2 separate regions of the Homo sapiens genome follow, and region 1 is linked to region 2. Evidence: fine-mapped expression QTL. Tissue or cell type: whole blood. Region 2 holds a variant in brackets; the other region holds the start of a gene. All regions are shown on one strand. Distances are between the middles of the regions.

The links. PIP is the estimated chance that this variant, and not a neighbour inherited with it, causes the effect.
Region 1: it holds the start of TRPS1, and the variant in region 2 is fine-mapped to the expression of TRPS1 in whole blood (INTERVAL, PIP above 0.99).

The regions. Positions count from the first base shown.
Region 1 is chr8:115,664,232-115,675,535 of GRCh38, forward strand. It overlaps TRPS1 (transcriptional repressor GATA binding 1), which reads right to left and starts at 4,744. Exons shown (of 7, transcript NM_014112.5): 1 at 4,314-4,744. RefSeq lists enhancers at 2,112-2,201, 3,239-3,358, 4,339-4,388, 4,501-5,042 and a silencer at 4,859-5,018.
Region 2 is chr8:115,565,723-115,577,026 of GRCh38, forward strand. All of the region lies in intron 5 of TRPS1 (transcriptional repressor GATA binding 1), which reads right to left. Among named protein-coding and RNA genes, the nearest start is that of TRPS1-AS1, 62 kb to the left of the region's middle. The variant A/ACACT (reference allele first, on the strand shown) is at 4,987.

The sequences.
Region 1 (11,304 bases), 99 kb after region 2:
ACAAATTATTTTTAAAATTACACTAAAACAAACCTCTACATAATTTTTAATGTAAATAATTGCAAAGTATGTTAGTCTTTTCTATACATGACAAGCACTCTTAAACAATTAGATTAAATGTCTACTTGGCAAAGGCTAGAAGACCATCTTTATGCTATATCTAAGGGGGACTCAAAAATTCCATAAATCATAACTATTATGGTAACAAAGAATTTACTTATTTCTGTATAATAACAAAAGATAAATGTCATTTTCACAGATAAGCCATCAAAGTAAACGCAAGTCTACGTATGCTGTCATTAATTTCCCAAAACTTCAACAAATGGTAAATAAGGATGATAAATGAGTAAACAAGACTCAGAATTAGTTATCAATGGTATTAGCAGTTATCATCAGCAAAAGAGGGAGAAAAAGAAACCTATTACCTGAAAGCTTGACCTAGCAAGGATGAACAACAAAATACGAGCCCATAAAACTTGCGGGTTTTTATCAAATTGATTGTAACTTGTGAGCTGCAATATTTGGGACAGAACTGTCTGAGTTTATAGTTTTCTATGCCTGCTAAAAACAGATGCAGACTACCACACTAGCTGTCCTGCGGAAACTAAATTAAGGAAAGGCAAATACCAAGTGGAAAGTTGTCAGCCTGTTGAATGAATGGCTTCATTTTACACACCAGAGAAATCTTAATAAGAATATGTTTTAATGTAAGCCAGTCATTTTAAGTTCATCACTTATTACAAAAATAATCTTTCCTTTAAATCAATTATAGACACCTGCCCATAACTTTCTTAAAGTCTGTGTTGTTGTACACGTAATAGCATAGTGTTGTTACATTATTGTTGCTATCAAAAGAAGAACTGAAGTTAAAATATAATTATTCTAAAATATTCATGTTATGAAAAATGTTTAAAGGTCAGTTATCAGCATTTATTCCAATTTCAAATTTGGAATAAAGTTCTAGTTCAAAAACAATTTGCTGCAAGTCCTCTGGAAACTTTCAGTAATGTTTATTTACAACAAAGAAGGTAAGACAAGCGTTTATAAAAATCTACAGTCTTTGGTTGCTTTCTTAATAAAAATGTACACATCATTAATCACATATTGTGGGTTGTATGTCTGTACACACATACACATATACATCTAATAATAGTAGTGATAATAGAACCGTCACTGAAATACTAGAATCGTAAAAGCTGCTTTTCTACAGATGCATGCATTTCCCTGTTTTAAAGGTCTTCCTTATGAATGAATATTTCCTTATAGGAAGAGATCTATATGATGTAAATCAGAATAAACTCAGGAGTGGTAGGTGACTTAAATAATACTGAAAATATGGTAGTAGTATGTGTAACTTATTTCGGATTAGCACACTGATTCCGATCCTAAACTGGTTTTCAAACACGTATGCAGAAAATTTTATAAAATCATTTAAAATATTAGTCATCGAAATGCTAAGTTCTAAATTCAGCTCAGACTTCACAGCTATTATGACATTTTTCTCCTTACCTTTAACGTTACCTTTAAGAGACAAAGGACAAAACCTAAATAGTAGCACAGACCCTTACAGCATCTAGAATTCAAAGGAGTGACAAACTTTGTGTTAGTAACTTGCTACTTTCCACCACTTATTTGAAAAGTGTTAGACTTAGGTATTATGTATGGAAAAGCAGTCTACACATATATATCCTAACATATAACATACATATCAGGAAGCCATAAACATCAGCTCGCCAGTGGTAAATAATACTTCGCCAACAGAGTACTAATGAAGCTTCAGAAGGCCTCACATTCAGAGAAATCAAGTTATAATGTTGGTATTAAGGCTCTATTTGCCCCTCAGGAGTTTTATTTTCACATTATTAACATCCAGAAATAATCGTCAAACTTTAGCATGTTACTAGCCCTGTATATTGAACTGAATCTAGAGATGTTTTTATCCAAAGGTGTAGCTTTAAAAGGAAGTTATGAAATCCAAGGAGAGAGAAACTCTAAGAATATGTTTGACTTGTTAAGATTAAGCATATCATTAATAAACTTTCACTTAAAGGTAAAAAAAAAAAATCCTCAAAATGTTGGTATCATTTCCAGACTGTCCTGTCAGCATCAGAACTTACAGGAAACGCTTCATCTTCCCATACAAACCCTGTATTTATTCACAACCCTGGCATACTTGGGGAAAGAAAAAAAAAAAAGCCCACACGATTTTAGATCCTGTTTGCTTTTATACGTTAACTGGTGGAATATCTGAGAGAGCCTTCTAAGCAAATGAGCGGCATGTAAAACTTCACAACAGTGAGTTCAGAAACTTTCATTCTCATTTTGTCCACGTCAAGAACTGGCTGCCCGCATGACTTTCCTCTGCTGTCCCTTGCATTTTTAACTCTGGCAGCCTTTTCTAAATGATCAACTTTTTCTAAAACCAGCAGGAAAGTAACATGATGCCAGCAAGATCCATAGGTTTTAGCTTCAGAGCTGGAGGACTTTGAAGAATTGTTGGAAGGTTCCTATTTTATTTTTGCTTTGAACAATCAAGTTTTAGCCAACAACCAGGCCCAGAGTTATCATTTCTTTGTAATTTTGTCTCAGGCCCTATCTGTATTTTTCTTTTGTACTTATTATCTCTCCCAGACCCTTTCCTTTCCTGTTCACCTGGTGTGTTTACAAAAGTTCAATGAATCTACAAAAGTTCAATGAATAGGCCTAACTTGTCTCAGATTTAACTCCTCCGCTGAGCTTCTCACTTCACTTACCTCGCTTAAACTCTAGCCGTGATTTTCCAAAATGGCATAAGAATGAATATTCTATCATAATTTAGATTCATCATTAAGATCAATGGCTTACTCAAAAAACTTTCAAAGCATCAAATATGAGGCCTAAAAAGATAGAGGGAAGTAAAGCCGGTCCTAAAATTTAATAAGTCCAAGATTCCCTCTGAAACCCACCAGTCCTTCTCACCCTCTAACTTAAATTGCTTTAGAGTCCTGGGGCCATAAAACAGTTGCTGACTTCCCTGGGGAAAGGGGGAAACACCACCATCTCAGACAGGTACTAACGAAAAAGCTTTCCCAGCCACAAAAACAGCTTTACACTTCAAACAGCTCCCACCGCCGCCTCACCCTCAAATTATTCCTGGGGTCCTATAATCCTGGAGTTATTTGGAGGGACAGCGATGTTTGCCTTGGCCTTTCAAAGATGCGTTTCTCTAGATCCCAAACAGGAACCAGACAGAAGGCAAAGCGTCTGTCCGCTTGGATGTCCCACCGCTGTCAGGCATTTAATCACCGGCCAGTGTCCCCTGACCCGCGCGACACATGGCGCATCAACCGCATCGCAGAGGAAGTCTGCCCCTTCCTCAGCCCCTACGGAAGCGCCCGGGCTGCAAGGCCCTGCCACATGGTACGGACAGGGCACAGACCGCTCGGCCAAGCTGTCCTGAGCCGCTCTGAGGCGGGTGCACCAAGGGATGCGACACCCGCCTTCTCCAGAGCCCAGCTGGGCCTTTAAGGGAAAAAAGTTTGAAGCCTGCATTTGCAAACTCTTCAAAGCCAAAGGCAGTCCTGTGCTGTTTTCCCACTTTGGAGACCATACGGAGGCCCGTCTCTGAGACCCTCCCGACCCTCCCGAGTTCGCCCAACTTACTACTCTGCATGCTGGTGCCTAGTCTGCGCCCCGCTTGTCACGAGCCCCCAGAAAACTTGCAGTGGCGGCGGCGGCGGCGGCCCCTCGGGTCCAACCACCTCCAGCTCCTCCGCTGCGCCCGGTAGGAGAGAATTAAAATCAGCCAGAAAGAGACAGCGAGGGGGAGTGGGGCTGCGAGGGGGAGGGGGCACCGGCCTGAAACTTCTTTTTTTGGCAAATGGGGATTTGTTTTTCCTCCTCCCCGGCGGCTGAACTTGACCCTGCTGACTCCAGGGGCTACTGCAGTTTGAAGTCGCTGGTTTCCAAAGCTCAGATGCCTCAGACCCACCAAAAGGAGGAGAGGAAGGGGGAAAAAGGGAGCAGAAGAGAAGAAAGAAAGAAAGAAATCACACGCTCAAAAAGGAAGAAAGAAAATGCATGTGAAACCCGAGAAGCCTGCGCTTGGCTTTCTGCACACTCTCCCTCTGCTTTTTTTTTTTTTTTTTTTTTTTTCAAAGAAAGTCACTTTTAATTCCCAGGGCTCCCCGCTCGCGATCGCCCACATTTTGCGCGCACACGAGCGGGCGCTGCACTCGCGTCGCGGCGCCCCGGGCCCGGCCGAGGGGCGCCCGCGCCCCCCGCGCCCCCCGCAGCCCCCGGCCCCGCGGCCCGCTCGGGCCTCCCCTCCTTACCTGTTGATTAATCGTCAAGAACACCCTCGGCAGCCCGAAAGATGGTGGCGCGGCGGCCAAAGCCATGAACCGTCTTCTGTTGTTTGCAGAGTTGATCTTGGATTATTGCGGGGGGGAGAGAAAAAGGTCTTTCCTGCCTCCCCCCCCTTTCCCTCCCCCACCCTTATTAAAAAAGAGAGAGAGAGAGAGAGAGAGAGAAAGAGAAAGGAAATAGAGCAAGGATGTGCCCGGTGCCGGGTGGGAGAGGGGAGGGGGTGTTGTTTTTTGTTTAAAAAAAAAAAAAAGAAATAGGAAGGCGAGAGAGCAATCGAGAGGACGCGAGGTCTGGAGAAACCAGCAGCACCAAAAAAGAGGACGCTAGAGATTGCAGTAAGATCGGGTCTTTATCAGAAATGTTATCGCTTGTCAGGACCTCAGTCTCCGCGCATTACGTCAGTTTCAAGACACCAACACTATTAATATCAAAGGAGCCTTCGCGGAGGAAAGCGCCACCCCAGACCGAGCTCCCTTAAAGAGACAGCGCGCGTCCCCGCGCCGCCGCCGCCGCCCCGCCCGGCTCCGAGCACCCGCCGCCGCCGCCCGCCGGGACCGGCCCCGGCCGCGGCGAGCCGGCTGCGCGAGAACTTCGCCCGAGTCGGAGCGCCGCAAATGAGAGCGGCGCGGTGCAGGGACCCGGCTACCTTCCCGCCCCGCCTCTCCCCCCTCCTCCCTCCCCCACCTCCCGTCTGTGAACGTGCGGGCTGGAAAAGGAGGAAAAATCCGAACGCGTTAGGAATAATGTGATAAAGACGAGGACTTACCTTGGGGTAGTGGGGGGCAGGTGGGGGGCAGTGCGTGGCCGCCAAACCGACGTTCCCCAGACACTCAGAGATGCTAACAGAAACAATTTAAAGAACTCTCAAAGTCCTTTTACCTTTTCTGTTGTTACTTTCCCTTCTCTCTCCCAATTAAACGACGCAGGATGTGTGTGTGCGTGTGCGCCCCCTCCCCCGCCCTTTATCTGTGGCAAGAAGTCTTAGGACACCTAGTTGGTGATCAGGATTCCCCACGATTTTCACGGCAAGAAGGCTTGAGGAGAACAACTTGAACTCTATCCTGAGTTGGAGAAGTGCGGACTGAGGTTGCTATGGTTTTCTGAGCTAAAGAGAAGCCAGAAACTCAATGGGTGCTTTAAGGGGGTACCACAAAACAGACAAAATGGGAACATTATTCAAATGCTGCAAGATTAATACATGCAGTTTGGGTTTTAGTAGCAGATAAGGAACTCTGAATTAAGCGTGACATTCTTTTTTACCTACTTTACATCTCCATATACTCTCATTATTAAGAGAAATTGCCTCAACATAAAGTTCACTGGATTGAGCTTTTTTTTTTTTTTTTGACTTCTAAAGATCAACAATGCATAAAACATTACCATGACAGGATTCAAAGTATAGTAGGTGTTAAAAACAAAGTAAACATTTCTTGGGCGTTTGGACTTCATTTTCTTCAGTTGGGTGACTTTAAGTGGCATGTTTTTCCTCTGGTGAAAGTCAGTTTAAAGTAATTTTGTGCTAAAAGGAGAAGCATCTTTCCTTTTCCAAACTACAAAATGATTAAAATTAGAATCTTAGGTACAATCATGAATCTGAGAGCCGAAGATGAAGTAATTTCCTCCAAAATATTTTTCACTAAATGATTCTTGCATCTTTTTAGAGAAAAGATGGGTATATTTTCCAAACATACTATTATCAGAAGTGAAAAAGCCAATCATTTTAAAAAATTAAAACTGAAGTAGGTGCTTTTAGAACCTTATTCCTTTTTCTCTATGGTCTTTATTTAATATACCTAGTCAAGCAGATATGTGATTTTTTTTTTGTAGCACATTTATTCCAGAAGTATTTTGGTACCGTTTCCCATACACTCTTTATGAGTAGAAAACCAATAATTCTTTTGCAATAGAGAAACTAGTCAGGTGAAAAAGTAGTCAAAATACAGTTTCACAATGAGGCAAACAATATATTTCCTAAAGGAGAGAGAAGACAATGAGCCTCATATGCCTGGAGTTATTCATATGTTATCATCCATTTAAATTAATTTGAGAACAGAGTTAGATTTATATATAGTACTGCATGCCGGGAAAATTAATATCAAAATCTTCAGTAAATCTCATAGTCAGCTACTAATGACCACCTGCATATTTCCACACTGGAGTCATTTAATACTGTCCACCACCAATTTCCACTGTAAAATGTATTCACATATTAAATATAGACCTTTTATTTTCTTTTTTTAAGCCATAAATTAACTTGCTGACTTTTATGGAAATATGCACGGCACAGTGAGAAGCATTTTTATTAAAGGAAAAAAATAAGGATCTGAGTGAAACATTCTTGAGCCATGACTAACTAAAAATATTAAATCAATTTTGAAATATGTATTCGAACAGTAAGACTGTTTTGTATTGAAAGGGTTAATATCACCTAAAACTGCTGAAGCTGGTATCTAACTGATAAAATCTGAGGCTATAGCATCTTAGCAAAGTTAAATAGTACAATTTATCACAAGGATTAGGCCCCTAATCTCCTTCTGCTCCCCAAGATTTAGATGACATTTTAAAAGGGGAAGTGATCTTCCTCTCCATCACCCACAAATCTAAGGCAATCATCAAGACTGTAAATTTATTCACATGAAACAATCATTGATTAAATTGGTTCAAAAAAAAAATGAAATTACATGCTTTTGCAAGCACAAAGCCCTTGAGATGGCTGGTGTTTTTCCACCTGTAATAATACAAAATTTGACTATTAAGTGTACCCAAAATTACATATTATATGAAAAGTTAAAGCCAAAGGTCTGAGGGTGAATTATGTCTTTTAATTGAAAGGATAAAGTTACACTTCAGGTACTGAAGCCAACAAATTCATGGTCACTTAAAAATTTAATGAATGAAGTTTCACGGACTCAATCTTGCTGAAGTTTGCCTGAGAAATGAAGAATCTCTTCATGTTACTTTTTGTATTTCAAGTTAGAGTAGAGCAGATCAAACTGCTGTCTGTATCAATTCATTTACATTAACCACAAAGGATCTGTAGAGAACTTAATAAAAGCTCAAATATTTTTGTAAACTTTTGCAAGCAAATTACTTATTTATTTATGAAATAATTTATGAAGAAAATTTTTACCTCATGCTTTAGATACATTACATGTGCTCTTGATTGACACAATATGTTTAAGCTCAAAGGCCCTCATAGCATTTTTTAATTCTAGTAGGAATATTTCAAAACAACCAACTAATACATGAGGTCATAATTGTTTGACAGTTGTTTTTAATGTATAAAATAAGTTACGTATATTGTTTTCCTTGAAATGTTTGTTGATTTGTTTTTCTAGTCCTGACATTTGCATGGCACAAACTGAATTAAGGGAAATATTAAAGATTTATTTACATTTAATACCTTCTGCTGTCAAACATATGCAAAACTCTTAAAACCATTCCCTTATTTGCAACGCATTTCTGAACAATGGAGACTGGATATTAAAAAGACAACCTGTGCTTTTATAGGACACACCAGAAAATAAAGAAGATATTAAGAGAAAGAAAAAAGCAAACAAAAGAAGCACATTTTAATTAAAATAATTTCTTTATAATCTTTCATAATTCTTTGAATTATGGAATCTTCTCTTGTGGCTTTAGCACTGATGAAACAGTTCCTCAAGCTGTATTATTAATGCATATTATTTATCAAAATGACATACTATAATATACTTTTTCTGTTTTATTATTTAAACATTCTTTTCCCCCCTTTTCTTGTAGTTTATTCAGCAGAGATACAAAGAGGGATTAGTAGTTAAGCACAAGCATACTTGTTTTACATTTTCAACCTTTTAGCACACTACTTACTTACAGTTCCAGTGCCTGTAATCACAATGATTTTACCTGATGGAACACGTATTTCAGAAATGTAATCCAACTGTTTACCCTAACACGTCATAAATTGCAATTCCTTTTAGAAACCTCAAAGATTGACAACCCTTGGTCCTAAATGCCGACTGCTTTAACACATACTATCAAGAAAACATTTATGTATTATTTGCTTTCAAGTTAGTCCTACCCCATGTGAAATGGAAGACCCTTTACCTTCCAGCATATCAAAAGCAATTATTGAAATACTCTGCCTTCCTTCACGGTAAGACCTGAAGGAACAGAGGCATTATCAGAGATGAACTACCTTAAGTTTATTTCTTCCCACAATCACTCGGCAATCAACGTTTAAAAACATACTCTTCCACACAAATTATGGTAGTTTTCCAAACTACCTATTGCTGAACACCTCTGGGTGAATTTATTAAAGAAAAATTCAGCTTTAAATAGCCTGTATCTGGTATTCAAACTCACACTTACACTTGCCAATCTTCCCCCTGCAATATCAGGCAATTGCCTAGTTAAACAGATGGGCCTTGCAGCCCACCCTAAAAGCCAGCAAACATGGGCTTTATTTAATTAAAAAGGGAAACAAATTTCTGAGGTGTAGACACACACACAGAGAGACATACACACACAATCTCTGACCGGGGTCAATCCCAGAATAAAAATATTGATTCTTGCTTTCTCATTAGGTTTTATGAATGTCCAACCATATACTATCCACTGGATTGAAAGAACTAAATGAGATCATTCAGTGCTGTATACTCAGACCAAATCTCTATGGGAAATAGCTGAACTCATTTCCTTTCTTTCAAGTAAGAGAGAACATTTACATCTGAATTAACCCAGATTCAACTCTTCTCCATCTGACATTGAAGAGTAGGTGTTTTCCAATTTTCTTCCTATTTCTACCCCCTGCTCCGTTATCCTCTGCTGCTTTGCACTCTTATCCCACCCACTACTCCATACTTACGCAATAAACTCTCAGTTGTACATAACCAAACTCAACATCTGATTTTGCCTAAATTTCAGACTAAAATAATCCACTAGAAACTCAAATTTAATATGACCAATATCATCATTAAGAAAGAGGAGACTATAAAGACAGACAACATGGAAGGAGGAAGGAAATAGACAAACCTTATCTCTGTTCAAGGCCTGAGTCATCCAGACCAGAAACCTCAGGATTTTGGCAATACCTTCTCCCATAAGCCCCACATCCAATCATTTACTAGTCCTCTATTGCTTCTTTTTAAAAGGTGTTTGTACCTGTTACCACCTTTCTTTTCATCCACATGGATCCTTCTCAAACCCAAAAGTTAAAATCTTTCTCAAGACATCCAGTTGAATGTGTCATCCCTACTCTAACCCCTCATGACCTTATGACAAAAATCCTATAACTCTCAACTGCCAGAAGAATAACCCCCAAAAGCTTCAAGTTCTTTCATAACCTAGTCCAAAATGGCTTTCTGGCCTCATTCTTCACTCAACTCTTCCACACAGACCATTCTCAATCATTGATTGACTCCCCATTCCCCAGATACAGCTAACATTTCAGAACGTCTTGGCTTATGCTTACAGAGCCACCTCACTTCGAAGGCTTTAAAGAGACTTTTATGCTAAATCTCCATGTGCATATCCTCTCTTCTTCTAAGGTCAAACTGAGATTCTGCCTTTTTCATAACCTTCATCAAATTCCAAATCATAATCAGCAGTGCAAGAACTAAGATTCTATAGAATTTGCTTCCATTTCTAAGTAGCAGTTCATCACAGTGACTTCTATGATATTGTTCCTTGAATTATCTCCCTCCCCTGCTAAACTGAAAGATTCCTGAGGGCAGAAAATCATGAAATCATAGTTACTCAATAACATCTGTTGAATTGATTTTGGAGATTGGATCAACCTCTTTAAATTCTACCTAGAAACAAACCTTTGAGGCCAGGTTTCAAATGTTCTATGTGGCTCACTCATCCTTTCATTTCCTTCCCTTCCCTTTCTTTCTTCCTTCCTTCCTTCCTTCCTCCCTCCCTCCCTTCCTTCTTTCCTTCCTTCCTTCCTTTCTCTTTCTTTTTCTTTCTCTTTCTTCTTTTCTCTCTCTGTCTCTCTTTGTGTGTGTGTCTCTCTCTCTCTTCTCTCTGTCCCTCCCTTCCTCTCCCTCCTTCTCCCTCTTTCTTTCTTTCATACACATGGGCTGATGCATCATGTACTAATTGAAACTTCTGGGTGGCCTTCATCTCAGCTACATATTTTTGGCAATGTATCAGAGGAGACATTTGTCCTCTTCTGAAATATTGTCCTCATTATCATTAAGTTTTGGTTTATAATTCCATGTTGCTCTAAAAATAGTGACTTAAAAGATCCTTAAATCCAAGGCATTAAAATATAGGAGTATTGAAAATGAGGCTGAAAGCAGATAAATTTTAGATGGGAAGGGATTATTTGTAGTTTTAGAAGCCAGGAGTATGAATTAAGAAAGTTATAACAGTGAGGTAGGAATAAGCAAACTCTTTAGACATTAACAGTATTTTTTTCTCTCTCTCTTGTTTACCATTAAAATATTGAATCGTCTTAGCATAATTCCATCTGTTCAAGTTTTGCAGATGTTAAACTCTCAAAAGCTTATGTGACATTTAATTAATTTTATACACCCAAATGTCCAGGTTCCAGCAGAGATTCCATTATAATGTTCTATGAATCTAACGGAAGTATGTGTGTGTGAGCACATGTTTGTGTGTGTATACATGGGCATGTGTCTGGGACTGCATGAGCATCTGGCAAATGAAAACCCCTGTTTTGCTGGCATTCCATCTTGGTGGTCACACAGTTAACTTACCCTCAGTACATCCAGACAAGTTGAATTGACTGCTCCATCAAGAGCCACATAGGCATTGCTAAATGATCACATGATAAGTATTAGTTATTATTTTCACTCTAAACTTCATTCATCAGTAACTCTACATTAATTAGAAGACAGTAAACTGTCAGTTTCTGGAAGGAAGGCACTTTCCACATTCTCACTCTGCTCTGTGCCATGAGAGAAGGAGCACTTTATCGCCTGATCTCCCTTGCCATCTAGGTTCCAG
Region 2 (11,304 bases):
ATTCTAAGAGTAAAAGCAATAAAATTTAACCATAGCTTTACTAGCTGTGCTCACAAATGAGGTAACTCAACAATGCCAACTAAAATAAATATTTACTGCAGTAAAAATAACAGCACCAAGAAGAAGCATCATGCTACATAATTCTGATTACACCAAAGGCAATATTTCTTATCACACCAAATTAAAAGGACGAAAGACATTTACTTGAAACTTCAAGGTAAGGGAATTTTTAAGTTCTCATATGAACAACACTGTTTACCTAATCTTGTACCATATTTTCATGTAAGTTATCCTCATACCATGGCATAGATTTTAGCAAATTCGTGGCCATATCCTATTTTAAAGAAAACTGTACATATTGAATTACCATAACATCTTTGATACTAATGTGCATGGGCAAAAGTTAAGTATGAGAGAAAGAAAGAATATCTACATGTAGTCTGTTCATTTAAGTCTTAGCAGGTGGTCAGAATGTTGCATGTATCATAAAATTCTGGACAACCCCCCAGTCTACAAGATGGCCTTGATAGAAGAGCCTAAAGTCACTAAACAGATTGCCAAAAGGCAAGTGGTCAGAATTGTGGACAGAAGCTACCCTACAGTTCCTTCAAGCCTGCAGCAACAAGAAGAATACACACCTGTTGCTCAAGGCCAGTTGGCAAAATAGAAAATGGAAGTGATGCAGATCTAGAACCTTGCTAGTGAGCTCCAGGTTATGTGGCACTAAGGGAGGGGCAGTGCCAATGGCATGGCTTAGGGAAGCAATGATTTCTGAGTTTTGCTGTTGTTTTTGCATTTTTTTCTTTCTTCTTTTTTTTTGTAGCCAGCTGGTATTCCTAAGGTCAGAAAAACATATGGAAAATGGCAATATTCCAGAAATCAGAAAACAGAAAAAAAAACAGAATTTGATTAATTTTGTCACTCATTCTTCAAACCACGGACAATGACTCTTCACTAAGTAATGGCAACTTCAACCTCTATCTGTAAAAATTTAAGACAGCTACAAAAGTTCTAATAAATTGGGATAATCACACATTTTCATTTTGCCTCGAAGTTTAGTGAGATGATATGTTTTCAAGAGATCTGTAATTAAAAATGGTTTAGTGCCTATAATTTCATCAAACCATTCTGTGAAAGGAAAGAGATAAGATGGAAAAATGAAGAGAAAAATTGATGCAAGAAACTAAGGCAATAATACTGCTTCAAAACCTGATAGGATAAATGTAATAATCATTCTAATACCATATATGTTTGTAGCATTTATGTCTCTGCTTTTTATCCTAAATAAACCCACGCATCTTTCTCATTTGAGAAAATTTACATTGCTTTCCCTGGAATATTTCTTGCCAACTATGGCAGTTTACACCATAGAGAGGAAAGTCTGGTTAACACCAAGTTTTAGGCCTCAGGTATATCCAAGATATACTTGTTCCAGATACAGAGAGACAGATGAATAAAAAGATTCACCACATGTTGAAATAATTGGTCTCAAAAATGCCATCAAGGGAATAATAAATCAACATGGACAGAAAAACTCAGTACATCAATTCCTAGTTACAGACATATTTTTTCCACATGTTGATTCTTCATTTCTACCTTCATTTCCATCGTAATCTAATGAAATTCTAAATGGACACAATTACTTCTCAGGTCATTCACTGTTATTAGAAAGGGGGGTGGGGAAATCTGGCATTACCTGTCCACATTTTCAGGTGCACTGTCCTTGACACAGCAATTCCACTTCCAGGAATTTGGCAAAGAAGGATCTTTGCCAAATTGATACCTCTCTATACCAATACCAAATCTTCCTAAATATTCAGATATGGATTCAAGACAAAGGCAAGAAACAGAATTTGGAATGAGCACTTTTGCAGTGACTTAAAATTTCTAAATAGCTTGATAACATAAAATATTCCAAATATCTAAAGCAAGGATCCTTGTCAAGAAGGTGCCACCCATCAGGTCACACCAACACCATCTGGGCAGAGAAGGGGAGCCCATGCCAGGCACCTCTATCAATGTGGACTTCTCATGTGCTCCTTGGTCCATTTCTGTCCCTAACGTGCAATCCACTATGTTAATATAATTCCCTGTGCCTCCTGCAGCTCTTTCAGGGCGTCTGTGTAGTAGAGTCTAAATCCTCTTTCAGCATTCATGATATATCAGGGATTAGAGTATTGAATACAGTGATCTTCTAGTTGTAAGAGGCTATGGTTTCAACACCTCTCATACTGAGAGTTTTAAACCAGTTGTGTTATTTTGGGGCAACTTACTTAACTTTTCTATACCTTAGTGCCATCAATAAAATTGAGTTGACAATGCCCAGCATCATAATGTTATTTGGAGGATTAACTGAGATGATGACTGTGACTGACAGTGACTGTCCTAATTCCTGACCCATTACTGTACTTCTTCCCAGAAGGCAGATACCATGTATTATTGTACTCCCCCAGCAAAAACCAAATGCCAGACACATTTTATATAAGAATGAACAATTAATCTGAATAATAAAAATAAGGCTTATTTATAAAGGTTAAGTTGAATAGTATATACATGCACATATATGCAAATATATATAATTCAGATATTTTATCTTTCTTAATGCTTACATGACTCTAAACTCTCACAATTTTAAATTAAAACATAAATATGACATAATTGTAAATTTTTCAGCTTTATACATCAGCATTTTACCATCATGAGAAAAGATATTCTTTTTCTTCTTTCTAATTTCCCCAAAGTTAAATTTTTAAAACATAGTTTACTATAAAAAATTATCAACAAATTAGCACTGAATAAATTGTTCTTTATTTCTAGTTAATTTATTTGAAAAGTTGATATTTTATGCTCTAGTTTCTGGCATGAGATATAAAACGTGCCACTGCTCTAAAAAATATATCAGAAAATTTTTTTCCACAAATGGCTTTTTTAGGAAAAAAAATTATAATTAACAGGATCAAAATTTCACATAGTTCCACATCTCTAAACTTATATAGAAATTTAATGATTACATAACTTCAACCATATCAGCAAATACACTTCTTTTACTAGCATGCATCAATATCCTCCCAATTAAAATACTCTGTAAGACTGCCTACAGTATTTCAGATCAAAATAGCTTTTACTGAAATAGACTTTCCTGCCTCTCTGATTTAGCATCTCACTTTCTCTTATTGGCAGATGGTTAGCCAAGTTCTATTTAAATCCATATGTCTTCCATAGGCATCATACAAATACTGAATTAAAAGATGAACAAATGTTTTAAAGCTAATCAGATTAGCCTTTAAGTGAAAAAAGTAACAAAGTGGAGTTTCATTTCCTGCAAATGACTTTTACTACATCACGGTTAGATGACTGAAGGAGTTACATCCCCGTAAACTACCCAGACAAAAATAACTCACTGTATGAGACAAGATTACAGAAAAAGACTTTCCTGACTTTGATTATTTTTTTCATGAATCCTTCCTCTCTGCATGAATTCCAATCCTGGCAGGCAATAAATCTGGTACCAGAGTGATAGTATAGTGTAGGCATGGTTCACCATCAAGACTAAGAAGAACAGAAGAGCAGAATACTTCACCAGCTTTATTTCCATACAGCTATACCCTCTCTCCCTCCTTTACTTCCACTAATTTGCTAAAGGGTCAAATAAACACACAAGAATTCCCACTTGAGGAAAAGAGCTCCATGCCTTTATAGATTTCAGTTTCATAAATATAACCTGTACTTTTATTCATCTCTTCTAGGCAAAGAGATTAAGATGATGAGGTTGAGTTTGTAGTACAAACATCATATGCATTCCTGAGTTCACAAAAGCTTTCAAGTTCTCGTATCCAGGTTTGTCTCTAGTTAAGTCATGCTGCAGACTTAAGGAATAATAATCTACTAGTATCTTTCTCTTCTTCTTATCACACTTTCTGGGCTATATGCCTTTGCTTCTCTGACTTGGCCATAAAATGATATAGATAAATGGTCCCATTACACATTTCTGGTTATCTTGAGCCCAGTATCTAATATTCTAAAATATCTCCCTTCTTTAGAAGGAAGCAGTATATTGGTATGGTAAATCATTCTTCACATTTTTGTTTCAACACTTGCCAGCACTGTGTTCTATATAAACTAATAATATAGCTGTGTAGAAAGAAGACTGATTAAGTTCAACCAAAATTGAACCTAGAGTCAATTTTATTAAAAAAAGAAGGTATATAAAAAATAAATTTTGGAGTCATGATTTAACAAATAGACTTTTTAGGTTTGAACTGAAACTTTTAAAACCTAGAAATGCACTGGCAGATTGTGTCTCTAGATTCCTGTGTCACAAAATTCTATAAAGAAATCTCTGTTTCACCAGATAACTCAGAAAAAAGGGATATATATAGATATATATGTAGATATAGATACATGCCAAGTGTTAAAATGTTCCATTAAAGCTCAAATCCTTTTTATTGTTATACGAACCCTAAATTGCTGTAATTGATTTTTTCCAGAGTAAGTAACTCACTAGATAATCTTATACCCTAAAGGTTATTGGAAATAATGCACAAAGTAATAATTTACTAATTCATCAGTCCTAAAAGAGTATACAAATAATAATCAATTTATAATTATAATCTTAATGGTAGAAAATTTACACAGGCGGTACGGCAGTCTCATACAGCAAATAAAATATGGTTTTCCAAATTTTAAAAAATGCATATTTCCTCATATAATTCTATTCCATTAAAGATATATTGATTTTAGACCTCCTAAAAGATTAGCAGTATAACAGGGCCAACAAGAAACAAAAATATAAAAATGCACAGCCCTCAGGAGCTCTCAGTCTGCTAAAGGAGGAAAATTTGCAAATGGATAAATTAAAAGAACTAGTATTTGCAGTATCTCTCATATCTTTGTTCTACTGTGTCCCATACTTGTCTAAAAGCTCCTTGCTTTTAGTGGAAAAACCTCAAAAAAAACACACACACACTCACACACACACACACACAC[A/ACACT]CACACACACACTCACACTTCAATGAACTTCAATTTCAAGCCCAGGGAGTATCACAGAAACCCCAACATTGCCATGAAATTGATACCTTAAAATCATAAGAACTGGAAACTACATGCATGCCAACTCAATCCCATGTAAACCAAAACCACCATGTTTGAAACTCAGCATGTCTGTTCATTAAAAATAGAATAACCAAGACTTCTGACCGAACCAGAATACTGTGCAGTCAGTGTTGCCAGCCATAAGAAAGGTCAGACTAGCTTGGGCTGGTCCACTGGATCAATCGTCTGGACTGGGCCTGTAAGCCCAAGTGTAAACTCCAACTGTATTGTTACCTATTTCCAAGACTTTCACCCACTATATAGTTAGGTTAGCTATTATGACACAAGTGCAGATTGATTATGATTAGAGTTCATAGTCCTTCAAGTTTGGAAATAACTACTTAAAAGCAATCTAGATATAAAACTTAAAAGGTTTGTTTAAAATAATGGAAAATTGGTATACTCAGGGTAGTTCCTTTACTTTTAAAATGATTATAATACATCTTCAGACAATTTTCAAAAGAACTACCATAAATTCTGTGATCATCACACAACGAAGTGTGGCTGATTTTTTAAAAGACATTTTAATTTGTACTTATTATAACAAAACTTTTAATAAGCATATTTTTTTCTTAACATTAAATGGGTAAATAGGCTAGTAAAAAGTCATAAATAGGCCTATCTCTCAGATCCAAATTGTTTACAAGAACTGAAAGCCTTAAAGCTTGGAAGATTTTAATCAAGACTTCCATTAACCCCCTACCAATATCCCAGGGATCGTAGGAATTTTAAACAAAAGGGAAAGCAGAATGCTTTTAAAATGACTTAATGTGATACAGTATTAAGATATGTAACAGTGTTAGCGATTAAACAACAGGTGATATATCACAGGCAAGCATTTCTCTTTTTTCCTCAATTATAAAATAAGACATTAAACAAGACTTGAAAATAAGCCACTGGGTTAAATCTAAGAGAAATGATTAGCGAATAAATCAGAACACCAATACATAAAACTAAAATTTGATAGTTCTTATATATAATGAATCTATCCAACAGGCATAGTAAATACGGCATTCATTTTTAAATGGGTATTCAAGAATCTTTTCATGTATATTTTTTTCTTTGATAATATGTATATACGACCCTAAGTAGTAGGGCTATTTTTTATTTATATCTGAATAAACGCTATTTACATATATACACACCCTACATATATATTTATATATTTAAAAGAAGATAAACGTTTTGAAGTTATTTACATAATTAAACAATTAAATTTTTATTTTAGACTTTGATTTAAATACCCACCTTCTGTTCTAAAACGTACTCTTCTTTTAGTTTAGCTGGTTACAATAAGATACTTAAAGCATGCATGTCTTTGTGGTGTTTCTGAATCCTATCAATTACGAAAAGACTTTGACATACCCAGAGGATCTTAAAATTTGATCTCACAAATGTCAAAATAGTAACTTTCACTGCAGAGGGGGCCTCACTCATTTTTTTTAACATAGATTTTTAGTTGGAGTGAAAAGTTCAACTTCTGCTTAGATTCTCTGTAGGCTAGTGTACTATGTTTCTTAAGCTTTCCAAATACCACTTTTCAAGAACCAACTGATAAGCAACCTCTTCTGGAACACTGTCTTGATAGATTAATTGAGAAGGGGTCATTTCCTTTTTTAAATTTCTACAACATTTTGCTATTTTTTTTTTGTTATTGTTGTTGTTTTTTCTCACTCTGTGGTACCTGACACTCTTTTTTTCTTGTGCTGTAATCGGTTTATTGAACATTATTTTTGCTACTGGTTTGCAAAAGTCTTAAAGAATCAGTGTCTATAGCTTAGTCATGGTAATGCTGCTCCTATAATATTCTGAACAAACTAGGCTTTCAGTTTATATTCAATTATTAAATGAATGTTAGTTAATTTGGAAGTCATTCCAACTCCTCTATTCCCTATGACAGCCTACGTTTCCAGCTATCCATTAGATATTTTCATCTGAATGCCTTACAAACTTGGTAAGTACAAAACCAGCTTCATTATTTTACCCTCACAGAACAGCTGACTCTAGAATTCTGCTAATGATACACTGAAAATAAATATACGCCAGACTCCGTGGCTCACGCCTGTAATCCCAGCACTTTGGGAGGCCGAGGTGGGTGGATCACCTGAGGTCAGGAGTTCGAGACCAGCCTAACCAACAATGGAGAAACCCCGTCTCTACTAAAAATACAAAATTAGCCAGGCGTGGTGGCGCATCCCAGCTACTCGGGAGGCTGAGGCAGGAGAGTCGCTTGAACCCAGGAGGTGGAGGTTGTGGTAAGCTGAGATCATGCCATTGTGCTCCAGCCTGGGCAACAAGAGCGAAACTCCATCTCAAAAGAAAAAAAAAAAAGAATAAATATAGTAAAGCGTGTGAACTTTGAAGCCAGGCTACTTGGACATGATCCAGTTTGATCCAGCCATTCACTAGCTGGGTGACTTTTGACAAGTGACATAACATCTCTGAGGCTCTACTTCCTCTCTGTAAAATGGAGAAAATACAGCATCTATATAAAGGGGTTATAATGAGGATTAAGTAAGTTACTACAAACAAAGAGTAAAGCCTTGCCCATAGTTAGTCTTTATCAAAGATTAGCTATTATTTGTCTCCTTTCAGTCATCAAAACTCAAAGCCTCTTTTTTGTCACCCGCACATATAAACTTTGCTAACTCTTGAAGACTGTCTGCTCAGCATAGCTACAGAAATCACTTCCCAACATCATTATCCTAGTGTAGGCTCCCTGTTATTACTCATAGAGTAAGAGATCAGCCTACTAATGAGTCTTCGTCACCTCAACCCCGTCCACCTCCTTTCCATGTCAACCTATGTAAGATGGTCATATTAACCCTATTAAAGGTTTCATCAAATTATCCTTTGCCCAAATCCTGGAATGGTTCCCTATTTCCTTCTGAGATAAAGTTTTTCAAATAAACATTTTAGAAAATTATCCTAACCTTTATGTCAAGTCTTAGCTCCCCATACTATACTATACCTAACTTTTCATCAAGCTTTTCTCTTTCCTATATCCTGAAAATGCCCCTTGTAATCTTACATTGTTTCTTCTATATTGGCTTACCCTTCATGCTGTCATATTCACCTGCTAAAAGTCCAGTCTTCCTTTCCGAAACAAGCTCAGAAAACCTTTTGGGACAACTAAGTCGGTTTTCTCAACACAATGTGATCTGTTCCTCTTTAAACAATCATAATCATTCTCGTCTCCCTTCACCTCTTTTATGGAAGTCTGATTGTATTTTAGCTGTCACCATACCTGTCTTATCACCTACAGCTAACTGTATATAACTTGAGTACAGAAATCTTGATATACTCATTTTCATACCCTTTATAAGTTCTTCCACAGTTCCTGCCTGAAACCCAGCAGGTGCTAAATTAATATTTATCGGACAACAAGAAACTTTAGAGACCAGTATATCAGGAATTAACTCCACAAAGTTATCCTCTGCTTTTTCTATTTCTATTTCTTTCAAGTTTGAGTACAGGTTAGTTTGGTCTAGTGAATATCTGTTCTTTGAAAATAAATCCTGAATCCATATGAATACCAATATATTTAAATTCGGACACTCACCAACACGCATTCCAATCCCACAAACAGAAGTGTGTCTTGTTAAAATTTCATGAACTACCAAATATAATGAATCTCTAGTGTTATGAAAGGACTTTGCCTAGAGAAGTCTAATGCTTGGAGAAGCAACTGAAAAGAGACAGGACATAGAATAGTTTTGTACTCTTTGCTTTAACACCTGATTTTCATTCTTATCTTACAATAAACTGTACAAATAGCTGTAAGCAAATGAAAGAAAATTTAAATATTTCAAAATTCAGTTTGTGCACCAAACACTTCACTGAGTAGTTACTGGCATCAACTTCATGTGCTCACCAAAACACATTAAGAAATTTGACATATTAAGAAATGTTTTGAAGGCAGTTAAATCCCATATATATATATAACTTTATAAGTGCATTGTCCTATGAAATATTCTCTGAATGTCCAAGTGACTGAGAAATCTTTCAATTATGAAAGTAAAATCAATACCTGGCTGATTCTTTGCTGCTGCTCAAGAAATGCACCTTATTCAAATAATCATATTCACTTTTTCCACTATAATAATGTTTAAAAAACTTCAGGGTTTCTATTTCTTAGCTATCACTGCAAGGCAATTCAAAATAATGGAAGCCAAGAAATAATACTGTTTTCCTGTTTCTCAGGAGTCTATATACATGATCTGGTAAAGTGACCTATGCTTGCCAATAAACTCTACTACTGTGTGGTCCCATAGAGGAGCCTGACTGTTGGGACGCCAATTCTCAAAATTTAAAATCGCAAGCAAGTTGCAATTATTCAGCTATAAACATACTAAAAGTGGCACTATTGATAATAGCAAAAAATAGAAATAAATGTCCAACAATAAGAAATCGATAGACAGTTTTTCTAGGACAACTAGTACAACATATAGTGAAATACTATGAAGTCAATAAATATGATGTAGCAGAATATACGCTGCTATAAAACAGCGTGTAATTTATTAGAAAGTGAAATTAAAAGTTATTTAATAATAAACATACAAATCTATGTTTGCAGGTGCATGTCTATGTGTGTGAGTGAGCATGTCTGAGTGTGCATGTGCCTGTGTGTCTGTGTCCAGAAGTAAATACATTAAAAACGTTGAAAACTTATTTTCTTCTTTTTGCTTGTTTATATTTTCTAAAATGTCTATAATGAACATATATCTTGATAGGAAAGATAATGCCAAGAAATCCTAATTTAACACCCTTTTCTCTTTTCCTGGACTTTTCCCAATTTGTTTCTCCACTTAATCCCTAGCCTCACCCTAGAGGCCACCTCCTCTCCTGAAACCCACAGGAGCTAAGTAGAAATTTGGTCACTTTCATCATGATCACCCATACTTCAAATAATTCATATATGAGTAATGACATATGATCTCTGAAGGAACATAAAGAACAAAGATAGGTTTATAGTTTTAAGATTTCAGTGGGATGAAACTGAATTATTCACATCCATTAAACAGAGTTTGAATGATTCACAGCCAATTTTATTTTTATAATTGTAATGAAACAGCTGGGATTAGAGTCTATTCATGGACTCATAAGAAATTTGCACCCCACCTACTAAAATTAGTTTCTGCATCCAAAATTCTGATTTGAACATCTGACTGTGAACAAAACAGGCATCATCGCTCAATGCCAAGAAACTGAGGAAGGAGACTTTAAGCATGTCACTTTCTCATAGAATTATTTTCTCATTGTGCTTACTTTCCTTTAACTTCATTCATCAGCAGCCCCTTGACATGATTCTTTTGCAGCAAAGTTGTTTCCAAAGAATGGGCTTTCTTGTACAAGATAAGTTCAAATAATACAATTTTTGAAGCTTTCAGACTGTATGTGTGACAGTTGCTTATAACTTATGGATTCTCAGCCACTGGTTGGAAATCATATTTAAGAATTTGTAGTTCATATATATATATAGATATAGATATAGATATAGATATAGATCTAGATCTTTGGACATCAGCATCATTACGTCCAAAATATAAGATTTTGTCTTAAAGTTGCCTCGGGTATCAATTCATAGATCTGAATGTTTAAGGTTTTAAAGGAAATTTACTTGACTCTAGATTTGCTTGACTCTGCAATTGTAAAGAGATTTGAGAAACTGCATACTTCAAACTATAATCTTCCAAAGCAGGAAACAGTATATGAGGCTTGAGTGACTCACCCAGGGTCACACGGCTAGTTAGTCACAAAGTGAATCTAGAACACAAAGTCTCCTTTCCTCCAATCCAGAGCACTTTCCACTACATCACAAGGGAAGAGCAAAAAGAAAAAATAACATCTAATTTTACCAGAAAATAAAATACAGGCAGGCCTGAACCACAGCCAGAGTTAAATGTGGAGCATACCTACCTCCAAACCCAGCTGGAACCTCAAAGGTTAGTATATATTTTAGACTCTTCAAAAATATTTTAATCACATGTGAATTTGAGGAAAGCTCTGATTTTAAAAACTCAAAAACACTCAGTAGTCACACAGCATAAAGTTATGACAGTATTAGCTGGATAATAAATTTGTAGACCACAAACTGTCCATCCAGACAATTTACACTTTAAAAACATCCAACCTTCTTAGAATTAGTTTGTAAGTCAGGCAAAGAGGACAGATTTTTCTATATTACCAGGGAACTTTCAGGTAGGCAATTTCTGA